Regions from separate parts of the Homo sapiens genome. Here all the other regions are linked to region 2. The links come from fine-mapping of genetic effects on gene expression. A gene starts in region 2. Each other region holds a variant in brackets. All regions are shown on one strand. Distances are from middle to middle.

Region 1 (5,160 bases), 230 kb after region 2:
TCGTGATCCCCCTGCCTCGACCCCTCAAAATGCTGGGATTACAGGCATGAGCCACTGTGCCCGGCCCAAGATGTTGTTTTTAATTTAATAATTTCTGTCTTCCTCATCTGTGAGTCACATGACATTGTCAACTTGCTAATAGAAAGACTTGCTTGCTATCTTGGGAAGAGAAAACAAAATAATGAAAAGGACAAACTCTTGCCCACCTAGAACTGGTTTTTCTCATTGGGAAATAAATAAGTGCATAAATCAGTCTAATACAAATATTGTATTTAGTTGGGTGCAGTGGCTCGCACCTGCAATCCTAGCACTTTGGGAGGCCAAGGTGGGCAGATCGCTTGAGGTCAGGAGTTTGAGACCAGCCTGGCCAACGTAGTAAAACTTCGTCTCTACTAAAAATACAAAAAATAGCTGGACGGGGTGGAGCGTGCCTGTAATCCCAGCTACTTAGGAGGCTGAGGTAGGAGAATCGCTTGAACCTGGGAGGTGGAGGTTGCAGTGAGCTGAGATCACACCACTGCATTCCAGCCTGGGTGATGGAGCGAGACTCCATCTCAAAGCAAACAAACAACAAACAAACAAACTTGTATTTAAAGGTAATTTGAAAGCATGGGGAAAGGAGAAATGTGTGAGGATCTAGGATGACTTAGGAGGATCTGGGATGACTTAGGCACAATTAGTCTGCAAGCAAGTGTATGAATATTTTAAAAATTAAGTGGAGATCTGAAGGCCTGAAATTCTAGCTCCCTTCAGGGATTTGGGGCTTGATTTGCAGAAGGGTATGAGACTTTGGAGTAAAAGGAGGACATCCCTCCCCTCATACACTTTCCAACTGACCTGTAATTAGCTAAAATCTTGTAATTTCTAAAATTCTGTTTAACACCAACTCATTGAGAAATACCTTTCAAAAACTTCATGGCATTGAATGGGGAGCTTACTTAGCAGTATTGTCTATAGCAAGAAGCCTGTTCTAGAGCAGGTGTTCTACCACTGTAAAGCTGGAAACTCTGGTGTTCCCCAGCCACACCCCACATGGGAGTGGCCTGGCATGTTCGCGGTATTGAAGACTGGCTGTGAAGGTGGCTCGGATTTGGAATTGGGATTGGCAGGGATCATTGTCTCTTTTCCATTCCCTGTTTTTCACTGGAAGGGCCTGATTAGCAACAGGTTTAACTGAAAAATGTTTTGGCTTTTTTTTAGTCCTGTTTTTCTAAGGACAATATGCTGTAAATGAGGCAAGTGAAAAGAAAACAACATATTTGTAAGAACTACAGAGAATGAGAATTTTTGAATGGGGGACAGTTTCACTGTCATACTCTCTCACTTCCCCGTTAAGATCACCCAACATGTGGCTTTGGCCTCCAACACCATGTGTTGGGTGATGAGACTTTCTTAGCCCCTAAAGCCCCTTAGATAGCCACTTACTTCCAGTCTTTTAAAGAAAGTCAGCTGTCTGAGGTCTTCCCACTCCCTGCCACCCCTCTCCTAAACTGCTTTAACAGGATTGAAAGCTCCATAGTGAAATGGAGCCAGTAGTAATAACTCCAAGGCCTGGCAGATTTGGTAATAGCCAGCATCTCTTTAGAGGCCATTCCTGGGTAGGCCTAATCTTCCATCACTTTCTCTGTCCAGTCCTGACAGCAGTGAGACTCTCACACATATTGTCCAATGCAGAACCTGTGGTCTGAATGCTTGCTCATTTACCAACAATAAACTGGGTGCCAATTTAGGGCCAGGTGCTCTGATGGCCCCCCAGGAACAACAGAGTGAATCAAAGGGATGCTGTTCCTACCCTCAAGGAACCTACAGTCTGGGAAAGATTTTATTTTCATAAATGCATAACAAATGTTGAAAAATCCCATAATCTCCTTTCTTTTATTTCTCTACCAAAAATTTCTTTTGGAATAAATTTACTATGGATAAGCCATGTCTTGGGGCCAACCCTGTCAAATCACAGCATGATTCATAAGCGCCTAAATATTCTTCCGTGTACCTCTCAACAGATTGTTTGGAAGTAATCCTTTCTTCAGCTGAAAACATCTGACCAAATGTAAACAGATTGTGTTTTTTAAGACACAATGTTGACTTTCTAAAACACCAGCTTAATTATTTAATGAAGTGACATGTGCTGTTTCTTTACTACATCAGTCTGCCTTTGGGGCCTGGTGGATTTTATCCAGGCAATTATTATCTGATGAGAGCTCCAGCAGATTCCAGCCAATGCCCCATCCTGGTAGGTGGGCTGGGGCACATGTGTAGGCAAATCCAGCTGTGGTGTGCAAGGCTTCAAGAAGGCCAATGGGTGGAAGCATTACTGCCTGTGGGATGGTGGCACTTAGGACATCTGTGATGGATGGTGATGTGATGTAGTCTGGGTTGTCGTTGGTTTATGGACTTTCCTCTGGTTAACTTCAGTACGTTGCTTATGTTGTGATTGGCTTGAGATGTACAGTGAAAAGAACCCGCGGACCAGACTCCCTTTTGTTTCCTATGTTGGGTGGAATTTCCTGGGAGAAGCAGCGGGAACAAAGAACAAAAAGTATGTATCTTGTTGAACCTAGAATCTTTACTCTGGCAGAGAATTTCAGGGACATTGAGTCCAGTC[C/T]CTCGTTTTACAGAGGAGGATCCTGATCCTGCAGGAGCTGAGGATCAGCGGTAGGCAAGGCTAGGACCGGAACCAAGTCTCCTGGCTCCCACTTCAGCGCTCTGCCTACTCTACCTGATGATAAGTGACCTCTTGGGTTGTCATAAATTTGGAAAAGCTAATGGCCATATCCTTTTTTTTTTTAAAAATACTGTCTTCCCTCAACCCCTAATCAGAAAATGTTTGCTTTATTTGGAATCTAAAGGAGAAATATCCAGAAACACTCAGTTCAATATGACTATGTGGAGGAAATGAGCTCTCTATTGAAAGAGACCTCATGACTTGCGGGGTGTGTCATAGCTTAGAGCTGTGGGAGGGACAGGCCTGTCCCTAGGCGAACTGTTTGTAGAATCATCTGGAAGCTTGAGGACACCTTCTGCTGGCAAACGCTCCAACTCAACTGCCACTGAGAAACAAATTAAATATAATTTGTTCTAATGAGATTTCCAGCCAGATTTCTGGAACAGAGAGGTTTGGATAAAGGAGACTAGGTCTCTAAACTGAATCATGGATTCTTTTTAAGGACATGCCTTATCCCAATCTATTATTGAAACCCACATGAGTTTTGTGGCATCCACTGTGGGTTTGGATTCACAATTTATACCTGTAACTTATTTTAAAAGCACCCTATGCCTTCAGGACTTTTCGTAAAGAGGAACTGTCCCCTACCAAGGATACAGCCAAATAAAAAAAATTGGTTGAAGTCCTATTTAGAAAATTCATGCTTAAAATTATGCAACTACTGGTACTGTGTACTTGTGAGATGATATTATCTGATGACAATTTATCATTGTCAGTGAGATACAGGGCTGTGTATTTTTTTTTTCTTCAATTCTACTGTGATATGGAAGCAATTATCTTGTCAAGGCTGGAAAAACTTTAGTTCTGTCAAACAGTATAATAAAGCAACAAAAAGTTTGGAAAGTGACGTGAAAGACTGCGACTAATCTTAAGGCTTTGATGACTTCATGGATTTGGTTACCTGTGAGCCCGTCTCCACCTGGCATGGTAGCTCTGCTCCCCCTCACCTTCCAGATGTGCTCTGGGGAAAGTCCAGGACTGGACGAGTGCTCAGGCCTGGGTCACTCCTCCTGGATGCTGCGAGCGGGTTTTTACTAATTACACAAATCAATAACAGATGTGCTGAGGCTGAGCACCTCATATTTATTCCACAATGTGTTTTCTTTAAATGACAAATGTTTTTTAAGGCCCCCAAAAGGTCATTAGATAGGTTTCCTCTGCAACACATAGGAAAAGGGGGATACACATCTCCAAAGAGGTAGTAAGTTCATCCTGTTATTTGAACAAGGAGCTCAGCCAGTGGTCGAGCAGAAAGAGCAGAGAAAGCCCTTTGCAGCTGTTTAAGAACTTTATTAAGGTTTATTTAAATGTGTCATTCTATAAATCATAGGTTTTGTGTTCTCCAAGCTGTTTTTAGATTGTAATTTGTAGCTGGAGTATTTTTAACTCTATGTAAAATGGTTGATAAGGCTGATAAATTGCTCCCATAAAGAAGGGAGCGAGGAGCTTTCCTTAAATAGAAAAAACAGTGAAGTTGGAAAAATGAACTCTCCTCCCTGTTTTTTTTTTTTCTGATCTGTGAAGAGACACTTATAGGATTTTAAACAGACTTGTGACATCTTGTAGTAGCATGGCTTTTCTCTCTTGTTCAGAGTATTGGAGATAGGGAACAAATATTTTGGAGGCAGAGGTGCCATGGCTTCCCCTGTGAGTATGGGTGCCCTAGGGAAAATGGTTTTTTGTGGGACTCCTTTTATATAAACAATTTGAGTCACCCAAAATCAGAGTGTCGACCTAGAAATCTGAAAAGAGTCATCATCCCTCAACCTCCACCCTGCCCCTCTCTTCAGGGCATCTGGTCAACCTGTGTTGGGTGGGTTGGGAGGGAAGAAGAGGTGGTAGAGTGCCCGAGCATGCTTGGAAGGGGAGAAACAGGGAGGTTGATCTGGGCTCATGTGCCCCTCTCAGCTAGTCCTAGTCACCAGAAGGGGGCCTTAAAATTTTTCCAAGGGGATCTAAGGACCACAAGTAGAAGTGGGGCATTTACTAGAATAACTATTTGAGTAGCTGGAGATCTCTTGCAAGGATTCTTCAACAGAAACCTGTTGTAGAAGAAACATTGCTTGGCCAGGAACGGTGGTTTATGCTTGTAATCCCAGCACTTTGGGAGGTCAAGGCAGGTGGATCACCTGAGGCCAGGAGTTCAAGACCAGCCTGGCCAACGTGGCAAAACCCCGTCTATACTAAAAATACAAAAATTAGCCAGGCATGGTGGCAGGCACCTGTAATCCCAGCTACTCGGGAGGCTGAGGCAGGAGAATCGCTTGAACCCAGGGGGCAGAGGCTGCAGTGAGCCGAGATTGTGCCACTGCACTCCAGTCTGGGCAAAAGAGTGAAACTCTGTCTCAAAAAAAAAAAAAAAATTGCTTGTGGCCTTAATTTCTGTGAAAGACCCTGAAGTCTAAACTGTGCTAAGCCAATGCCCATATGGCAAA
Region 2 (5,160 bases):
CTGATTCCTTCCAGCAGCTGATAAGCATCACAGGAGCAGGAATCATATTTTGTTCATCTTTTCTATGTCCCACAAAGTGTCTAGCAGAGTATTTGCATTTGTTGAATGAAAATATGTTAGATCAATTTCTTCCAACTGTAGATTTCAAACTATAGGCCAGGCCATCCCACTTGTTACAGGTAGTTAATCTGTTTATCTAAAACCATAATTCATTGGCTTTCTTAGCTATCTTGGCAGTTAGGCAAGAGATATTTACAGGTTCTAAGAAACATAAGATGCTATTTATTCCGTTGTATATTAGACTTATAGTTGTGTGGTTTCAGATTCTTAAGAATAAAAATTTCCATCTCTTCGTTTTGATGAAATGTGTGTAAAGTTGGAGAACAAGGTAAAAGAGTGAGTAAATTCAGAATTCTTTTTTTCTCTCAAATGCTCAGATACTTAATTAAAATTCCTTTAATATGATCACGAGATTTTTGTCAGGACAAGTTGAGATGATCCTTGAGAAAGCACTTTGAAAACTCTAGACTACAGACATAAAGGACGTTTGTCAAAAGTAAGGCTTTAAAACAAAATAAGGCCTCTTGAAAACACAGACCTGGCGTTCTGACAGTGCACATACTGCCTAATAGGGATGAAAGTTTAAGCTCTGTTTAGCTACCTTTGTATAATGGGAATAAAAGGTTTTTTTTTTCTTGTATCCTAAATCGAGAATTTAAACTGTTTTCTGATTAGCAAGGGTTTGCAGTCACACTAGTAATAGTCCTCTATAAGATGGACATCCTTCTCTGTTCCCCGTCTTTCTACTCCTTATGAAGAAAAAGTAGAAATTTTTGAAAAAGTTGTGCTAGGTATACATAACATGACATTTATCATTTTAACTACCTTTAAGTGTACAGTTCAGTGGCTTTAAGTACATTCACAGTGTTGTATAACTATCACCATTATCCATCTCCAGGACTTTTCCATCATCCCAATCTGAAACCCTGTACCCATTAAACAATACCTTCCCATACTCTCTTCCTGCAGCCCTTGGTAGCCTCTACTCTTTCTGTCTCTGTGAATTCACCTATTCTTCTTGCTGAGCCTTGCTGTTATCATTATTCATTCGACATTATTCATTATTCATGAGTGCTTATTATGGACACCAGGAGTTCAACAGTAAACAAAAGTCCCTGCTCTCAAGGAGCTTTTATTTTAGTGGGAGGGAGACAATAAACAGCGAGCACATTTAAAATATTTTTTAAAAATGAGATTATCTTATACACAATTCTTCTGCAACTTGATCTTTTCACTTGACAGTACATCTTGGACATCTTTTTCTATGTCAGTCTGAAGAGGCCTATCTCTTATTTATAATAGCTAAATTTATTGAGTCTCTACTTTGCTCCAGGCACTGTTTTAGTTGCAACAATCCTATGAGGTAAGTTCTATAATGATCATCTTTTTACAGATGGCCCAGATAAGTGTAGGAGCTTGCATAGTCACCTGGCCAGTCACTGGTGGAGACAGAACTAAACTCAGATGACCTGATTCCTTACTCCAATTCTACCCTCTTTTGAATGGCTACATAGTACTCTTTTGTATCAATATACCTTAACTTATTTAGGCAGTCTCTTATATGTAAGCCATTTTTAGGTGTTTTTTTGTTGTTGCTATCATAGTGCTATAATTAACATATTTAGAGATATGTTTGCACGTGTGTGTGGTTTTCTATAAGGTAAATTCCTAAGAAATAAAAACACATACACATTTCAATACTTGATAGGCACTACTATACTCAGTTTCCTTTAAAAAATATTTTACCAATTTATATTCCCACTAACAGTATAGGAAAAGGAAAAGGCCCTGATTTCCTTATATCTTCTTTAACAAAGGGAATTACCAAACTTATATTTGCCCCATATGATAGGTTTAAAAATGGTATAGAGGTGATACTTAAAAATGTTTTTCACTTAAAAGTGTTTTTTATTTTAAATATTTTAAAGAGATGATTGCTTCCTGCTCTAAGCTGTTCTTGGTCCTCTTTTATCATGTAAGAAAGAAAGCCATCTCTCTTATTTCCAGAAATCTGTAGTTTCTTGTTACTGTGGAACCTTGGTAGGAAAAGGCCCTTGTTTCTGTGAAAACCTGAGGGCCCAGCGTGAGGATGTTCCAGGAGAGTGGAGTTGATGGTGCGCAGGGGATTAGCTTGCTCTGGTTATAGAGACATGATTAAAATCTATTTGATTTCAGTACTTAACTGGCAAATCTGATGCAACTTCTGGAAAATTCCTAGATGGCTTTAGGCATATTTAAAAGAAGCCATATTTTTCCTTTTAAAAATAGATATGCACCAAAATATTTTATTTTCATCTAATCCCGCTTTAACAACCAGAATCCCCTTAAAAGCAATTCCAAACTAAAAGATGTAAATCCATTTCCTATGTGCATTTGTTCTTTGGTACCATCAGGGTTAATGTTTGCATCCTCTGTGCTGAAATTAAGGATGTTGGGAAAGAAGTGTCATTGCTTTGCCTACTAAATGTCACTTGAGTATGCTTAGCTTTCATCCATAAGAGAGCTGAACTTCCCCTGTAAAAAAAAAAAAAAAAAAAAAAAAAAAGTGACAAAAACCCACTGCTGATTCTTTCATCTCTGCAAAAGCAGGTGGGAACTGCAAACAGATTTGCTTATCTTCCTCAGTCAAGGGCTGGTAAAAGTTTGGTAAGTAGGCCTGGTAGCCGGTGTCCCCTTCCATTGTTCATTTTCATCCTCCTGAATTCTTGATTCCCACAGAGGAAGCCATCCTCAGAAGCCAGCCTCTTGGGAGTTTCCTTTTGTTTCCCCAAGATTAACCAGTTCTGTCCTGTCAGCAGGAGCAGGCAACTAGGGGAGGAGAGGCTCTTCAGGGCTTTCAGCATTTTTCCAAGGAGTGCTTTTCTCCCTCAATTCCTCACTGACAGTGAAGCTGCTTTCTTGTAAGGTCTTCCTCTTCTTCTGATGAGATGCTGATTCTGATTGCCATCTAGCAGCTTCCGGTGGTGGTAAGTGGTCAAGAGTGTTTTTCCAGGAGTTGATCTCAGGTTTTTGAGAATGCCCCCTAGAGACCCAGTTTGTTTTCTGTATCATCCCTCAAGCTTTCAGAGTAGCCTTGCTTTTCTCCTTGGCATGGTCACGGAATGGATACCTGTTTGATCTTCCTGCACTGCTGAGAAATCTTCCTTTTGGGGGAGAGGATTAAGTCTGGGTTGAGGTGAGTAGATGGGTAGCATTCAATGGTTAGTGAGATGAAGTGGAAATTTAGCTGTGGGCTGGTTGGAACGATCTGTTTCTTTTCTCCAGATCCCTATTTTGTTTTGCTGTTTTCATCTTGGTGACTAAGGTTTCACAAATATTCTTTATTATTCCCCTTTTGCTAAAAAATAAATTTGGGGGAGTTAGTTGGAAATGGGAGATGTGACATTTTCTTTTTTGTTGTTTGAAATGTCTATTTTTTACTCTGTTAGCATGCCTATTAAATGACCAATGATAGTAGCATAAAGGTACATTTCTTCTTGGTTTGTAGGTCTTTGTCACTTCCTTTGGTAGTAGTTGGTTTTATTTTTTTCACGGGGTTTGTATACAGTGCACCTATTCAATATATTGTTTATGGTCAATTTATGCTTTAGACATGAACAGTTTGCACTGAGCTATCCCTCTGAGGTTTGAGGGTTATGTTTTTAGTGCTAAAATTTGTCTGAACAGAAAAAGGTATCCTTCTAGTTGTTTTGTTTATAGGCAAGAGAGTGTCTCAGGTCCCTGGTTAACAATTAGCTGTTTTGAAGAAAAGAAAACTGGTGAAAAACATTAATTGGAAGCTGAAGTCTTGTTAGAAAGTAAATGAGGAAACACAGGTTTTCTTGTGGGATTACCAACACCTGTGCCCATGAAGTATCCCCTTTTACTCAGCTGTTGCTCCATGCTGGCCTTTACTACAAAATGTAAACTCAGAGTGATTTCAGTTTTGATTTTTTTAAATGTATTTTTTATTTTTTATGTGATATGTAATAACTGCACATATTTATGGGGTACATGTGATATTTTGGTATATGCATACGATGTGTAATTAGCATATATATCACCTCAAACATTTACCATTTCTTTGTGTTGGGAACATTCCAAATCTGCTAGCTATTTTGAGATACAATAAATTATCATTATCTATATCGTTTATTTTATCGTTTATATCTATATCGTTTATTATAAATAAAAAATAAATTATCATTATCTATTGTCATACTACCGTGTTATCAAATACTAGAACCTGTTCCTTCTATCTGACTGTATGTTTGTACCCATTAACCAGCCTACCTTCACCCCCTTCTTCCTCTTCCCCTTCCTAACCTCTGGTAACCACCATTCTCCCTCTCTACCTTCATGAGATCAACTTTTTTAGCTCCCACATATGACAGAGGATATGTGATATTTGTCTTTCTGTGCCTGGCTTATTTTGCTTAACATAATATCCTCCAGTTCCATCCATGTTGCTGCAAATGATAGAGTTTTATTCTTTTTCATGGCTGAATAATATTCCATTGTATATAAATACCACATTTAAAAATTTTATTCCTCAAGAAGAAATATTATTGCTTCCATATCTTGGCTATTGTGAATAGTGCTGCAATAAACAGGGGAGTACAGATATCTCTTCAAGGTACTTATTTCCTTTCTTTTGGATGTATTCCCAGAAGTGGGATTGCTGGATCATATGGTGGATCTGTTTTCACTTTTTTTGAGAAACCACAGAGTGATTTATTTTAACCTATATTGTGCCTTTATATTGTCTCATCATGCAGAAATATTTAAAAATGAGGGAACAAATGATTTTTTTTGTGCCCCTGGAGGATTTTTTTGTGGGTGGGAGAATTTTATTTTTTTCATATGTGGCATATTGAATATTTTCATTTAGTAGGAAAAGAGTTAACTAACCATCTAAAAGTAAATTGGAAATTGTAGCTGTCATTGAAATTAAACTTAATGTATGTTTGGCCAGATGCAGTGGCTCATGCCTGTAATCCCAGCACTTTGGGAGGCTGAGGCAAGTGGATTACTTGAGGTCAGGAGTTCGAGACTACCCTGGCCAACATGATGAAACGCCCTCTCTACTAAAAATACAAAAATTTACCAGGCATGGTGGTG
Region 3 (5,160 bases), 54 kb after region 2:
AATTATGATTCTAATGCTGTAGTTTATTCCTAGAATCTGCAAATGCCTTGTTGATATCCTAGTTATTGGATGAAATCTATTTGCTGCTCCCATGATTTTTTGTGGTTGGTAAAACAATGCCCATTTGGATTTTCCAAAGTGTTCATTCAGTGCAACAATGTGGTTGAGTACCTCCAACCCCCAGCAGTCAGTGCTACAATCACACCACTAAGGCTCCCTGCAACATGAACTCCTTTTATTTCCCTCCCGCCCATTTAAATAGGACTTTGTACGTTTCCACAGTCAGCAAACTTCTCTCTCCTCTTAACTCAGAATCTAAGTGGTTGAGAGTAGAGTAGAAAAATATGGTTCACCATCATTCTCAGTGTGTGAGCCGAGATGGTCACTGGGCCTCTTTAGGCCCACATCATAATAATGTATCTGTGTTTCTCTGAGAAAAGACTGGCTTAACAGGAAAATTTCATGTTCCTGTGTGTGGGGTGCATAGACCATTCATTGTCCCCTTTTCTTTAATAGAAATAAAAATAATTTTCAGAATTTAATATTCACAACATACCTGCTCTATACCTAGCAACATGTATGTTTGTTGCCTTTTCCTCATTTATTTTCCAAACAGTATTTGCGGCAATGTACAAAAAGCATATAAAGCTCAAAGGGATAACAATACATGAAGAAGCTAGTGTAGGCAGAATATGTTTAGGTGGGCCCCAAAGTGCATGCTACAGGACGTGCCTGCTTAGACTAGCAGTGTGTTGAGTGCTACTGGAGCTATTAAGAAAGGGGGTACAAATTCTGCTTTCTACCTTCAAGGAGCAGATATAGTCTACTCAGGAAGAGAAGCCCAGCACACTAGAATGAAACTAATAATAGGTAAGAATGAAAAGGTGCTGTGAAATTCTAATTTTGTGATGTGGCCTGTAAATGCTAGGGAAAGGAGAGCTCAAAGTACACGAAAGTGTTTGAGGAAGTTTTGCCAGAGGAAGTGGGAAATGATTCCTGCCTTGTTTATTTGTACCACCACTGTTAGCAAGGAGAGACAGGAGCAAAAGCCTGTAGTCAGACCTTAGACTACAGGCTAAGAGAAGTGACAGTATGTCATGAGGAATTATGGTTTGGGTAGGTGAGAACAGACTATTTAAAAAGAGAGTTTAAACATGAGGTAATTGGCTGTCAGGAGCTGGGGAATCACAAAGTGAAAAGGGATTTTATTTGCCCTCCATATAAAATAGGCCAAATCCCCAAACGGAAATGGCCAGGTTAACACAGAACGTAAGTTGGGTGTGGTGGGAGCTGTAGATTTAGGAATATCGGCTGGAAGGAGAAACTTTGAGCTAGGAGAGAAGTGAGGCTTGTTAAGCAGTGATGGAACTTGCTAAATGTGAGGTATGGGGTGGAAACTCAGTTTGTTAGAGAGTGGGAGGGAAAGAACTTAAGAAGGAACAGAGGACAGCAAGGATTGAAGTGAACGAAGAGAGGACAGTGTAGGAAAGTGTTAAGGAAGGGAACGTCTCAGGAAAGAGGGAGTGGTGAACTGGTCTAATGGTAGGTGCCTATGAGGTTAAGAACTAAGGGAAAACATCTTTAATAGAAGGAAGTAACTGGAGGACCTGAAGAAAGCCGTTTTAATTTTTTAAGAAAGTTGAGGTTTAAAAGTCGGAGGGCAGAAAAAAACCCCACAAACTGTAAAAAAAAGAAAGAGGGGGTGGGGTAGAGCTAATTCAATTAATAGCTTGCAATAAAGAGAAGAGAAACAGTATAAAAGCTTTCAGGCTGACTGAAATTTGGTCAACCATTTTTAAATCAATCTTTTCACATATTTTGGCTTTTTAAGTATGTGTTTAAAATCCATGGAAAGGTAAAACTCCGTAAATATTTTCTTTGGGAGACTCTTGGGATGTCACCATGTTGAAACACATCCCCGGACTGATGGGACATTTGGGTCTCTATTCTTCTTGAGCAGCATAGCTGTACTGCCCACATGATGCAGATCCTCACCTATGGGGCTGATGACCAGATGCACCAACTAAAGAGTACAGATGATGACAAGCAGTGTGACACGTTGGAATTAGTCATGGAAAGCACCAGTAACTTGCATTTGTTATGGGTTTCTGGTTGTTAGTTGTTGCTTTTTTGTATTGGGGCATCACCATAGTAACAGTGGCTTTTTAGCAAACATTGAAAATGGCTTCTGTTTTGTGTGCTGTTAATATCTGTGTATGTTATTCTAAGTTTGACATGGCAAAGGTTTTAATTTTTTTCTTTATAAATAATTTACTTGTAGGAGAAAATATATTTTTTGGATATCTCTCAAATTCATTTTCTTTCTGGATTCAAGAGTATAAAAACATAAATATTTTTTATCTTTTTGACATCTGATTTGTTTAAATAGTGTTATTCTTTGGCTAAGCATTCGTCTGGTTTCTTGTTTCCCTAATTTAGTTTGCCTGTTTTAATCTTTTTTTTTTTTTTTCTGGCCTCTGAATTTCTATTCCTAAATGTTCTAAAATGGCATATTAAAGTAATTAAAGAATCTAGGTAAGTTCTCTGAGGTATTTGTTTGTTATTTACCTGTTCCAGGCTTGAGATAATTTCAGCATCCTCATAAACTAGTTCCCATTCCATCTGCTTTGAGAAGTAAATTTTAAGTTAAAAAAACAGATTTGGCTTATTTATTTATTTTTATTTTTACTTTCTTCACTGCAATGGTACAAAACTGAAAAGTATGCAAGCAATATGTAATTGGAATTACAAGAGTTAAAATAAGCAATTTTTGATGGCAGAATTTTGCTCTGTTATAGCTTGGCTGTAATGGAATAAATTTAAGATTGAGAAATGAAAAGATTACATAGAAAGAAGAGTAAGTTACTTGTGAAGAAGGAACTATAAATGGAGTTTCCTTTGTTGGCAAATGGTTCATGAAAATAATC[C/A]ATAAATCAACTGTGTGGATGAAATTGGGCAAGTTTAGTAACAATTGAGAGGTTAACGGAAAAAAACCACTAACCCCAACGGTCTCAAAGTGGTTTTTATCTTGTTTTGCAATCTTCTTTACTGGACCAAATGGTCTGGTTCTGGGAATCTTATTGTTAAAAGATGGTAACAATCATGTTTTACATTTTGTTGTTGAAAGATCAAATCATTTATGTACCAAGGTGATCTTAACTTCATGTCCACTATTATGAAACTAGTACCAGATTACTGTCACATTTTACACCTGATTTTCTATGTAGTTTCTTTTTTTTGACAAATAAAAATTGTATATATTTATAGTACACAACATAATGTTTTGAAATATGTATAAATTACAAAATGGCTAAATCGACCTGATTTACATATGCCTTATCTCACATAACTTATCATTTTTTTATGATGAGAACACTTAAAATCTACTCTCATAGCAATTATCAAATGATATGATTTGGATCTGTGTTCCCACCAAATCTCATGTCGAATTGTCATCGCTAGTGTTGGAGGTGGGGCATAGTAGAAGGTGACTGGATTATGAGGGTGAAGTTCTTATGAGTGGGTTAGCACCATCCCCTCGGTGTTGTTCTCATGATAGTGACAGTGAGTTATCCTGAGATCTGGTTGTTTAAAAGTGTGTAGCACCTCCTCCCTCTCCCTTTTGCTCCTGCTTCAACCGTGTAAGATGTGCCTGCTTCCCCTTTGCCTTCTGCCATGATTGCAAGTTTCTTAAGGCTTCCTCAGAAGCAGAAGCCTCTATGCTTTGTGTACAGCCTGCAGAACCATGAGCTAATTAAACCTCTTGTCTTTATAAATTACCAGTCTCAGGTATTTTGTTATAGTAGCATGAGAATAGACTAATACATCAAGTATACAATTTGCAGGTTTATTACAAAAGTAAGCTACTTAGGCATTAAACTTGAAAATTCTTTAAAAATGATCCAAGACTTGGGCTATATATTTGTCAATAAATCTGTGTCTATTGCATGACTGTGTGCACGGAGGTAGTGTTGTAGTTGTGAGGAAGTGTATACAGTTTTGTAAGGATGTTTTTGCTTGAATAATGAGAGACTGTTCTCAGAGGAATTAAGCAGAGGACAGCAATCAGAGTCACATGCCAAGACTGTTGATCTAAATCTCTAGCTCCTGATACCCTTGACTTGGTGTCTCTAGCAGTCCTGATTGTACTGGGTTTTATGTGTCCTCCTTGGTTGTCAGTTCACATCATTACAGATGTGGCTGTTCAGGTGTCATCTAGGTAAGTTATAGATGGTGACATCATTGTGTACCAATTGTCCAAAAGTTTAGGGAAGAAGGGCTTTTTTTATACAAAAGGAAAAACCTGATTTCTTAGGTACTGCAAGGAAATTAGCTTCAGTACAATACACTGTGGAATCTCAGTGTGGAATTATCCTTTAAAGCTTTTCCATTCAACTCTCTTTACAGAATTCTAACCAACTCCATGTCCTGTCTGTGCTTTTATCCCTTTAGAAGAGGGGACCTCATTACCTCCCCAAACAGCCTTTTCTTTCTTTGGGTAGTTTTAATCATTAGGTAATTTTTCCATCAATTGAGCCAAATTGATATTCTCTTGCTTTATTTTCCATTGTTTTAGCTTTTCTTCAGAGACCAAAGCAGAGCAAACATGTCTTCTGTTTCATGCAACAACACTTCAGATATTTGTGTTTAAAATATCAAACACAAATTCATCAAATAAACAGATCTCCAGGAAAATCACCTGCTATTCCTTTTCTTTTCAAAGAGCCTCAGTTTTTCTATAACTTCTTCAAGTGGGTTCCTCCAAAGTCAAACACAATAGTCTAGAATTTATTTGACCATCTTGAAGTAGAGAAAGATTATTAATACAGTCTAAGACTGTACTATCTTTTCAGTGACTGTTGAGTCTATTAATCTCATATTAATTTTATTTTTATTGTTAATGACAAGAACCGTGTCACATTTATCTCCATATCTTGCTTGTCATAGGGCTTGTTGGCACATAATAGGCACTTACTCTGTCATTAAACTATTCCTTTTATTATTGTATCTATGTGGACTTTAGCATCTCTCTGTATTGTCATTGATAGTTAAACAAATGGGCCAATGAAATCAGAAGCTTTAGGGGTGGAGTCCAGGCATTTTTTTTTTTAAAGCTCCCCTAGTGATTCTAATGGGCAACCTGGATTAATCACTGATCTA
Region 4 (5,160 bases), 31 kb after region 2:
ACTCTTAATAACTCAGAAATTAAAAGCCTACTGTGAATTGTAAATTTACTTTTTACATGGTGAAAAAGCTAATTTAAACATCACATTTCAGGCCAAGTGAGGTGGCTCATACCTGTAATCCCCGTACTTTGGAAGGCCAAGGCTAGAGAATCTTTTGAGCCCAAGAGTTTGAGACCAGCCCTGGTAACACAGGGAAATCCCATCTCTAAAAAAAAAAAATCACATTTCAATAATTTTGGCTAGTATGATCTTGTTTCACTGTAGTAGTGCTGATTGTCTTATGAAAAATAAAAAATATTGACTAGTCATTCATTCATTCACTTTTTTAAAAACGAAACAGAAATGTATTCCTCACAGTTCTAGAGATGGTGAAATCCAATCAAGTGGTCAGCAGATTCAGTATCTGGTGGGGCTTGCTTCCTTGTTCATAGACAGCCATGTTTTTACTGTGTCCTCACATGGCAGAAGGTATGAGGGAGCTTTCTGTGGTCCCTTTGACAGGGGTGGCACTAATTTCATTTGTGAGGCCTCTGCCTTCATGACCTAATCACCTCCCAAGGTCCCACCTCTGAATTGCATCACATAGGGAATTAGATTTTTATTATTTTATTTTATTTAAGTTCTGGGATACATGTGCAGGATGTGCAGGTTTGTTACATAGGTAAATGTGGTGGTTTGCTGCATCTATCAACCTGTCACCTAGGAATTAAGCCCAGCATGCATTAACTATTTTTCCCGATGCTCTCCCTCCCGTTGTTCCCCTACCCCACAGGCCCCAGTGTGTGTTCTTCCCCTCCCTGTGTCCATGTGTTCTCACTGTTCAGCTCCCACTTGTAAGTGAGAACATGCGATGTTTGGTTCTTTGTTCCTGTTTTAGTGTGCTGAGGATAATGGCTTCCAGCTCCATCCGTGTCCCTGCACAGGACATGATCTCATTCCTTTTTATGGCTGCATAGTATTCCATGATGTATATGTACCACATTTTCTTTATCCAGTCTATCATTGATGGGCATTTGGGTTGATTCTATGTCTTTGTCATTGTGAATAGTGCTGCAATGAACATACGTGTGCATGTATCTTTGTAATAGAATGATTTATATTCCTTCGGGTATATACCTAGTAATGGGATTGCTGGGGCAAATGGTATTTCTGCCCGTAGGTCTTTGAGGAATCGCCATACTGACTTCCACAATGGTTGGAGTAATTTATATTCCCACCAACAGTGTAAAAACATTCCTGTTTCTCAAGATCGCGCCATTGCACTCCAGCCTGGGAGACAGAGTGAGACTCTGTCTCAAAAAAAAGAAAGAAAGAAAAAAAAAAGTTCCTGTTTCTCCACAGCCTCACTAGCATCTGTGGTTTCTTGACTTTTTAATAATTGCCATTCTGACTCGTGTGAGATAGTATCTCACTGTGGTTTTTGTTTGCATTTCTCTAATAATCAGTGATGTTGAGCCTTTTTTCATGTTTGTTGCCCACATAAATGTCTTCTTTTGAGAAGTTCATGTCCTTTGCCCACTTTTCAATGTGGTTGTTTGCTTTTTTCTTGTAAATTTGTTTAAGTTCCTTATAGATTCTGGGTGTTAGATCTTTGTCAGGTGGATAGATTGCAAAAATTTTTTCCCATTCTGTAGGCTGTCTGTTCACTCTGATGATAGTTTATTTTGCTGTGCAGAAGCTCTTTAGTTTAATTAGATCCCATTTGTCAACTTTTACTTTTGTTGCAATTGCTTTTGATATTTTTGTCATGAAATCTTTGCCCATGCCTATGTCTTGAATGGTACTGCCTAGATTTTCTTTTAGGGTTTTTATAGTTTTGGGTTTTACATTTGAGTCTTTAATCCATCTTGAGTTAATTTTCATATAAGGCATAAGGAAGGGGTCCAGTTTCAATCTTCTGCATATGGCTAGCCAGTTCTCCTAGCACCCTTTATTAAATAGGAAATCCTTTCCCCATTGCTTGTTTTTGTCAGGTAACCAAAACAGCATGGTACTGGTACAAAAACAGACACATAGACCAATGGAACAGAATAGAGAACTCAGAAATAAGACTGCACATCTACAACCATCTGATCTTTGAGAAACCATTCATTCACTTATTGATTTATCTATCCATTCATCTATCTAGCCATCCATCCATCTATCCATCATTCTGTCCATTTCAGAAATATATACTGAACGTTGATTATGTGCTAGACACTGTTCCAAAGGTTGCAGGTACAGCTGTGAACAAAACAGGTTTAAAGAAGTAAAAAGCCCTCAACCTGCATGGAGCTCACATTCTGGTCGGGGGCGGGGCAGAAAGACAATCAACAAAATAAATGAATAAATAATCTTCTACATTGGGTGGGAGTGTGCTGCAGTTTCAAAAAGGATAACCATGGAAGGCTGAATTAAGAAGACATATTTGATTGCAGATTTGAAAGAAGTGAGG[C/T]GGCAGCCATGTAAATACTTGAGCAATAAGCATGCCAGGCGAGGGAACAGTAAGTGCAAAGGCCATGAGATGAGAATGGACCTGGTGTGGTCAAGGAACAAGAGGCCACTGAGGCTGGAGTTGAATGAAGATGGGGGACAGTGGTTGTCAGGGCTGGATCGAGGGTTTTTTTGTTTGTTTGTTTTTTGTTTTTTTTTTTAGAGGGAGTCTCGCTCTGTCACCCAAGCTGGAGTGCAGAGACGCCTCCCGGGTTCAAGCAATTCTTCCCAAGTAGCTGGGACTACAGACGCCTGCCACCACGCCCAGCTAATTGTATTTTTAGTAGAGATGTGGTTTCACCATGTTGGTCAGGCTGGTCTCGAGCTTCTGCTCAGGTGATCCACCCGCCTTGGCCTCCTAAAGTGCTGGGATTACAGGTGTGAGCCACCGTGCCCAACCTGGATCTAGGTTTTTTGAGGTCTTAAGCTAATATAAATACAAAATACAAAATCAGGTATAATAAAAATATTAATTTAGAGTGAGAAAATCTCTATAAATTATAATTTTGAAAATTTGAAAAATACCCCAAGCATCCCAAAATTCAGAAAAACAACACAGTGTCTTCATTTTGCTGAATGTGCCTTTATAAAATGTTTTATTTATTTATTTTTGGCCTTTTATTTTTGATTGCCTCTCATATAACAATTATTTTGTTACAAAATTTTCTAAAGAGAGACTTAGATAATTCAGTTTTTCCTTTGGTATAGTTAATTAACATTAACTTAAGAATTATGGTAGCTTAGAAAAAATTTTCACCTTTGTGACTTCACAATGTCACATAAACATTTAGAATGGTCAACCTTGGAAAAACTTCCACCAAGTTTCTTTCATATATGAACTGTTACAGATATACTTGCCATAAGTAGTGCTGCTATAAGTAGGTTTATGCTCAAAAGCACAGGAATTCTAATGCATTTTATTCTGTGAAATCCCCATGAAAAAAGAAAAATATGTTTATTATACTTACTAAGTATAATAAGCATATCATGTCATACATGTATTCATCAACTCCTAGTCAAAACAGAATTTATCACCTCTCAAGAATATGAGGAGTGTATATATATTATGTATCAAATATATATGATATGTAATATATAATAAATATATGATATGTATAATATATATCTATATATTATTTTATTATATATAATATATAGATCTATATTATATATAAATATAGATCTATATCTATTATATATAATAGATATAGATCTATATATTATTCTATTATATATAATACATATAGATCTATATATTATTCTATTATATATAATAAATATAGATCTATATATTATTTTATTATATATAATATACAGAGATCTATTTATTATATATAATAGAGATCTATATATTATATATAATAAATATAGATCTATATATTATATATAATAAATATAATCTATATTTATTATATATAATATAGATCTCTATATTATTTTATTATATATAATAAATATAGATCTCTATATTATTTTATTATATATAATAATATAGATCTCTATATTATTTTATTATATATAATAAATATAGATCTCTATATTATTTTATTATATATAATAAATATAGATCTCTATATTATTTTATTATATATAATAATATAGATCTCTATTATTTTATTATATATAATAAATATAGATCTCTATATTATTTTATTATATATAATAATATAGATCTCTATTATTTTATTATATATAATAAATATAGATCTCTATATTATTTTATTATATATAATAATATAGATCTCTATTATTTTATATATAATAAATATAGATCTCTATATTATTTTATTATATATAATAATATAGATCTCTATTATTTTATTATATATAATAAATATAGATCTCTATTATTTTATTATATATAATAAATATAGATCTCTATTATTTTATTATATATAATAAATATAGATCTCTATATTATTTTATTATATATAATAAATATAGATCTCTATATTATTTTATTATATATAATAAATATAGATCTCTATATTTATTATATATAATTAAATATAGATCTCTATATTATTTTATTATATATAATAATATAGATCTCTATTATTTTATTATATATAATTATAGATCTCTATATTATTTTATTATATATAATAAATATAGATCTCTATATTATTTTATTATATATAATAAATATAGATCTCTATATTAATTATATATAATAAATATAGATCTCTATATTATTTTATTATATATAATAAATATAGATCTCTATATTATTTTATTATATATAATAAATATAGATCTCTATATTATTTTATTATATATAATAAATATAGATCTCTATATTATTTTATTATATATAATAAATATAGATCTCTATATTATTTTATTATATATAATAAATATAGATCTATTTTATTATATATAATATAGATCTATATTTATTTTATTATATATAATAAGTATAGTTCTATATTTATTATATATAATATATATAGATCTATATATTATATTATATATAATAAATATAGATCTATATATATTATATATAATAAATATATATGATATATTTGATATATCATATATAAATATATATGATATATATCATATATAAATATATATGATATATATCATATATAAATATATATGATATATATCATATATAAATATATAAATATATATGATACGTTTATTATATATAATAAAATAATCTATATCATATATATTATATAT

What was found. PIP is the estimated chance that this variant, and not a neighbour inherited with it, causes the effect.
Region 1: its variant is fine-mapped to the expression of ATP8B4 in whole blood (TOPMed, PIP above 0.99).
Region 3: its variant is fine-mapped to the expression of ATP8B4 in whole blood (TOPMed, PIP above 0.99). The same link has a PIP of 0.9 or more in blood mononuclear cells.
Region 4: its variant is fine-mapped to the expression of ATP8B4 in non-classical monocytes (Schmiedel 2018, PIP 0.92).

What each region holds. Positions count from the first base shown.
Region 1 is chr15:49,886,740-49,891,899 of GRCh38, reverse strand. All of the region lies in intron 23 of ATP8B4 (ATPase phospholipid transporting 8B4 (putative)), which reads left to right. Among named protein-coding and RNA genes, the nearest start is that of ATP8B4, 230 kb to the left of the region's middle. The variant C/T (reference allele first, on the strand shown) is at 2,606.
Region 2 is chr15:50,117,198-50,122,357 of GRCh38, reverse strand. ATP8B4 (ATPase phospholipid transporting 8B4 (putative)) reads left to right here and starts at 3,125. Exons shown (of 28, transcript NM_024837.4): 1 at 3,125-3,235.
Region 3 is chr15:50,063,314-50,068,473 of GRCh38, reverse strand. The region is part of intron 3 of ATP8B4 (ATPase phospholipid transporting 8B4 (putative)); the gene reads left to right. Among named protein-coding and RNA genes, the nearest start is that of ATP8B4, 53 kb to the left of the region's middle. The variant C/A (reference allele first, on the strand shown) is at 2,928.
Region 4 is chr15:50,085,818-50,090,977 of GRCh38, reverse strand. All of the region lies in intron 2 of ATP8B4 (ATPase phospholipid transporting 8B4 (putative)), which reads left to right. Among named protein-coding and RNA genes, the nearest start is that of ATP8B4, 31 kb to the left of the region's middle. The variant C/T (reference allele first, on the strand shown) is at 2,435.